Linked DNA regions of Homo sapiens: region 1 is linked to region 2. Evidence: fine-mapped expression QTL. A gene starts in region 2. The other region holds a variant in brackets. All regions are shown on one strand. Distances are from middle to middle. Region 1 overlaps LMO1 (LIM domain only 1). Region 2 holds the start of LMO1 (LIM domain only 1).

The links.
Region 1: its variant is fine-mapped to the expression of LMO1 in left ventricle (GTEx, PIP 0.97).

The regions. Positions count from the first base shown.
Region 1 is chr11:8,232,706-8,235,603 of GRCh38, forward strand. All of the region lies in intron 1 of LMO1 (LIM domain only 1), which reads right to left. It overlaps LOC105376536 (a long non-coding RNA gene), which reads left to right. Exons shown (of 4, transcript XR_007062582.1): 4 at 232-314. Among named protein-coding and RNA genes, the nearest start is that of LMO1, 30 kb to the right of the region's middle. The variant G/A (reference allele first, on the strand shown) is at 1,572.
Region 2 is chr11:8,262,584-8,265,481 of GRCh38, forward strand. It overlaps LMO1 (LIM domain only 1), which reads right to left and starts at 1,295. Exons shown (of 4, transcript NM_002315.3): 1 at 755-1,295. The coding sequence starts at 779. RefSeq lists a silencer at 417-506.

The DNA.
Region 1 (2,898 bases), 30 kb before region 2:
CCCCTCCCAGGGCTCTATATTTGGGCTATTACCAGAACATGGGTGAATGGCTGGAACCTCCGTACTCAGGGGAGACCCTAGCCCACTAAATTATAGCCCAAAATGAAGGGAGACAGTGAGAGGCCCCAGCACGTGAAGCAGCTGTCCCACTCTCTCTTCCATCTACCCTGGCTCTTGGACAGGCTGGTCTTCCGAGCTCAGACCCCAGCATGTTTGTCCTGGCTCCCGCAGGGTTGTAAACTCCAGCACTGGTCGACAATCTCTTCACTGGAGGCATCTGGCACCTAGAGGACCCTGTGGAAGCCATGAGGGGTGAAGCTGCCAGCCGCCGCAGGTCCCCCTCCCCACTGCCCGTGCCCAGGCTGGCCTCTGCACAGGCAGGTTACCTTAAGACCTGGACACCCCTCCCTCTTCTGGGGTGCTGAACTGATTCCTGGCTCTGGAGAACTCTTATAGAAGCCACACAGCTTCTGCCAAAGTGTCCCATGTCCACCAAGACATGGAACACCAGGGTCAGCCTGGCTGAGAAGGCCCCAGAGCATCTAGAGACCCTTGGGTCTAGAGACCTCCCACGAGAAAGGCTGGCATCCTGGGGGAAGCCTGAGCCAGGGCAGCCCCATGGGAGGGGCCTGGGACCAGACTCCAGGTCTGCAGTCCTGTGGCTATGGGGTCCAGAGCATATCCCCCTGGTCTCTCTGGGCCTAACTTCCTTCATCTGCCCATAAGAAAAACGGAAGCAATCCCTTGCTTCTCACAGGAGAGTGGAAGAGCTCTGGGGGTCAAACAAACAAAACAGTGGAGCCAGCCTTCCTTCCTCATAGGGCATCCATGCTGTGTCTGCTCTCACCGGGCTGGTCCAGGAGACTTGAAAACACTCCTGGAAAGGTGGAGGGGCTTTCAGGAGGGGCTCTGTAGTCTCCTGCTCCCCAGATGGAGGGATAAGCTCCCCACAGGGTCCAGGCCCTCCCTCCTGCTCTGCCTTCCCCATTCCCACCTAGCCCCCCACCCAATCTGCCAGCCTGCCCCCCTGCAGACACCTCTTCCCTCCCTCCTTCCCCAGCCTGGCTCTGGGACCTGAGCCTCGGGCCATGCACTTTCCATTAAGGAGATAGCATCCCTTTGCTGAAGTCCATTTGGGATCCATTTTAGTGTTATCTAAAAATCAAATCTACATGGTAATCCTTTTAATGTACTCCTGACTTTAGAAAAAAATGGCTTTGCGCTCCTTCAGGAAAGGTTTTAAAGCATTACCCAGTAATTACTACTCACCCATGAAAACACTGATATTTCACAATGGATGATGTTTGCGCCGACACGCACGCCTGGGCACACACTCAGATGCATGCGCTGGGCCCAGCAGAATAAACCAGTCCACTCAACCCAGGGTCACCCCTAAGTCTCAGGATGTGGGGGGAACAACATTGGAGGGGAAACAGGCTGAACTCCAACCCCTACCTCTAGCAGGGGGTGGAGGCAGGGCTGCTGGTGGAAGGAGGCAGCCAGGCTGGGAGAGAAGCCTCCCAGTCTGACTCATCTGGCTGCCAGACACTCACCCTCCACTCTTTAATCTG[G/A]GGGAAAGCCAGACAGTCCAGGTGACGGGGACGCACTGCCAGAGGTCATCCCGCCCCTCCCACTCTCTCCCTCCAGCCCGGAGGAGAAATGCCCTCATCTTCACATGGACCCCAGAGCAGTCCACTAGGCCAGACCCAAGTCCCCAGCAACTCCTGCCCACCTGTCCCAGCCCAGCTGCCCCTCAGCTCCAGCACGTGGACTTTCCCAAACTGCCAAGCCCACAGGCTCCAGTACTACCAGTGCCCCTGGTTTGGATGGCAGCCTGGGGGATGCTTACCCCAGTGAGCTCCTCCAAGGCCACTCTTCCAGCCCAGAACGTCTACCTCACCCAGCTCCAGGTCACTCCAGGCTCTTCCCCGTGGCTCCCCTGCTGGAAGCCACTGTGGCCACCTCCTGGCAACTCCACTGGGCATCTGCAGCCCCTCCCACAAGCCAGTGTCTCCTGCTTGGCACTGCTGGCTCTGCCCCCTGCAGGATCCTGGAACACAGCTCCTCTCCCTCCCGCAAATGGATCTTGTTAGCTTGTGTCCCGGGGCCTTCACTCTGCTACTACTCCAGGAAGAAACGCCTTTGTCCTGCCCATCCCCACTCTCCCAAAAAGGTCAGAGTCAAGAGTGAGACTGAGGCTAAGAGTTCAGACCTTGAAATCAGGGAGCCTAGTTTCAAGTCGGAACTGCTCCAAGGAGCTGGGGGGCCTGGATTAAATCCCCCCACCTTTCTGACTGGCATGTGTGTACTGGGAGCCACAGTGGTCTTTCCGCTCAGAATGTGGTGAGGATAGAATGAGGTTCTTCTGCACATGAGGCCATAGCACAGAGTCTGGTGCCCAGGGCACAGTGAACAGGAACTGATAGTATTAACAGTCACCCCAGGATACCATCCCTGCTCGGGCACTTGCTTTCTTTTTCTTTTAACTTTTTGTCTCTTGACATAATTTCAAACTTTCAGAACACTTGCAAGAATAGTAGAAAAAATTCCTGTAAGCCCTTCACCCAGATTCCCTACATATAACATTTTACCACATTTGATTTAACCTCCATCTTTCTACCTACTTCTACCTACTTACCTATAATTTTTTCCCTAAATCATTTGAGAGTTGGTTTCAAACAGGAAGCCTCTATACCCCCTAATACTTTCGGTTTGCAAATGCTTTGCTGAAAACAAGGACATTCTCTTACATAACCACAGTATAATAATTGAAATCAGAAAATTATCATTGACATAACATTATTATCTAATCTATAGACCTCATTCAGATTTTACCAATTTCTTCAAAAATATCTTTTATGGAAAAATCCTGGGCCCTGCATCGCATTCAGTTGTCAA
Region 2 (2,898 bases):
AGGGCGCACTGAGGCTCGACCACGGAAGGTCCGTGCCACTCTCGCAGGCCGCTCCCGCACAAGTGCTACCGGCCGGCGGCGGGACACTTTCTTCCTCTGGGCCAAACTCCCGCCTCCGCGCTCAGAGAGACAGGGAGCTAGCGGGCCGGCACAAGAGGCGGCTCTCTTTCTCACCGAGTCACGCTCATGCAGATGTCCCCCGGAGGGTCCAACCCGCCTTCCCCTCGCCTGCCGGGCACCCTGGCGCTCGCGCCGTCCTCCCGCGCTCCCGCTTGCCCCGAGCTCTGGAGCCCGATTCTCCCCGAAGCCGCTGATTTGCTCGGCGCTCAGCGCCTCTCGGGTTACGCGGCGGCTGGCGCGAGGGTGATGGCTGCGGTGAGAGCAGCAGCCTCAGACACGAAATGCTCAGAGCGAACCTCCGCGGCGCGGAGATCGCAAGGGAGCCCCAGCCTCCGCGCGGCCCCGCGGCGCAGCACACGGCCAGTGCACAGCTCCTCGGCTCGCGGCCGGGACCCGGGGGGCGTGCGGCCCCGGGCGCGTGCAGCCCGGGGCTCGACCTCCTCCCCCCGCAAGTTCCGCCCGGCTGTCCCCCGGTACTTCCCCCCGCCCCAGCCCCGGCCCCCAGCGCGCCGCCCGCCCCGCAATCCCCGCACAGCCCAGCAGGTGTGCGCCCGTGTCCCCGCGTGTGTGTGCCTGCGCGCCGCGGCAGGGGGCGAGGGGGTGAGGGGCGTCGAGACCCCGGCCCGCCACCTACCGTCCTCCTTGTCCAGCACCATCATCTCGGGCGCTCCGTGTCCAGCCGCAGCTAGGCTCGGCCGGGAGAAGGGCGCCGACTCGGGGCGCGCTTTGGAGGGGCGGCCGGTCTTCGGGCAGCTAGCGGGCTCTAATTACCCGCTTGTCCGGCTCTTAACCTAGATTGCACTCAGCTAGAATTACATTCAGGAGTGAAGCACTTCGCAGATACAAAAGCAGTCTCACCTACTTTTGTGCCTCAGAATTGGAAGGAACTACGAACTGCAATTTAGAGAGAGAGGGAGAGGGAGAGAGAAGGGGGAAAAGAGGATCAGAGCCGTTTCTTTGATTCTCACCTTCTAAATGGCTCAATTTGCCCAGTATAATCTGTCTTAATGTAATTGCATTTGATAGCTCATAACCCTGTCTCTGGCAACGACACAGCTTTCAGCCTCATAAAGTGTTTTCCCCTCGGATTTAATCTGAATCTCAATCTAAAATTATATTCAAAGAGATGGGGGAATCTCGTGGCCGTCTCCCGCTGCCTTTCTCCCTCAATGTATGAGGTTTGCACTCCTGCTACTGCATAAATGCACACATTTCCTGAGGCCTCCACCCTCCCGGGTTAATGGGGAGTGGAGACGCACGGCTGTCCGGCTCCGCAGCGCCACCTGGAGGCTTCTAGGTCCTAGCTCGGTGAGCGTCTTTGCTCCGATCCCAGGGTCGTGGTCTTCAATGATTGTCTGGAGGACGCATCCCATCTGTCACTCCCAGACCCTCAGCCTTGATTTTTGTCTCTTCTTCAGAGCAATATTTCTCTGATCACATCCTTTTCCTTCCTACCAGTTCTGCCCGGGGTTTCGTGTTGCTTCCCGGATTGTTTGGCAAAGTTAACCCTCTTCAGGGCACAAACGATCCTACCGAGTCTTACAGCACTACTCCTGACCCCAGCAGCACCCCCAAAAGCATCCTGACTCCATGGAGCGGGAGAGCTTATCTCAACTTCTCTCGAAGCAAGCACAGGCATGGCCTTGAAAGCTTTTCTCATTCTACAAATATTTACTGAGCATGTATTATGTGCCAAGCACAGTTCTAAGGCACTAGGGATACAGCACTGAACAAAACAAAGATTCCTGCTGCTATTATGGAGTTGACGATTCTTGCTCTGTAACTCATAAGGCAGGAAAAGAGACAGTGCCCATCTCTTCTCCTGGACCCTGCTTCTCCCCAGAATCCTGGGGCTGATGTTCTGGCTGCCTACCCTAGGAAGGCCACCTACCCACCTACTTTTTTTCTTTTCATTCCTTTTTCTTTCTTTCTGTTTTTTCTTTTTTAAGATGGAGTCTTGCTCTGTTGCCCAGGCTGGAGTGCAGTGGTGTGATCTCGGCTCACTGCAAGCTCCGGCTCCCAGGTTCCAGCGAATCTTCTGCCTCAGCCTTCCGAGTAGCTGGGATTACAGGCACACACCACCACGCCCAGCTAATTTTTGTATTTTTTAGTAGAGACGGGGTTTTACCATATTGGCCAGGCTGGTCTCGAACTCCTGACCTCGTGATCCACCCACCTCAGCCTCCCACAGTGATGGGATTACAGGCGTGAGCTGCTGCGCCTGGCCGGAAGGCCACCTACTTTTAAATCCCAAGTCTTTTTTCTTTGCCTAGACAGTACAGAGTTCCAAGGTGGGATAGAAATAATGATTTTTCTTCAGCCCAAGGAGGGCTCCAGACAGATGTGTTGGAGGCTTGGTCCTGGCAATCACTTCTGAGGACTAGACCCAGGGAAAGAGAAACGGGCTGAAGGGCCACCAGTTGGGATTCTATCTCATCTCTGCCAATTACCAACAGTGGACCTTAGCAAGTCTCTTTCTCTATCTGGGCCTCAGTTTCCTTGGCTGTGAGGTGGGAGACCTACTCTTCCTGTATCTATGGTTGCTGTGGGGGTCAGATGAGCTAATGCATGTTAATGTGCTTTGTAAACTGTGGCACTCCAGACAATGCAGGGGGATGGGGGGAGATTATCTGGTTTGAAGGAGACCTGGAGGCTAGGTCTTACCCTTTAAGCCCTGGGAGGCCCCAGTGCTTGACAGGGATGGGGAGCAGCGGGCTGCAGCCATATTCCTCTCTGCTAGGCAGGGAAGTCAGGCTTTGAGAAAACAGAAAAGCGCTG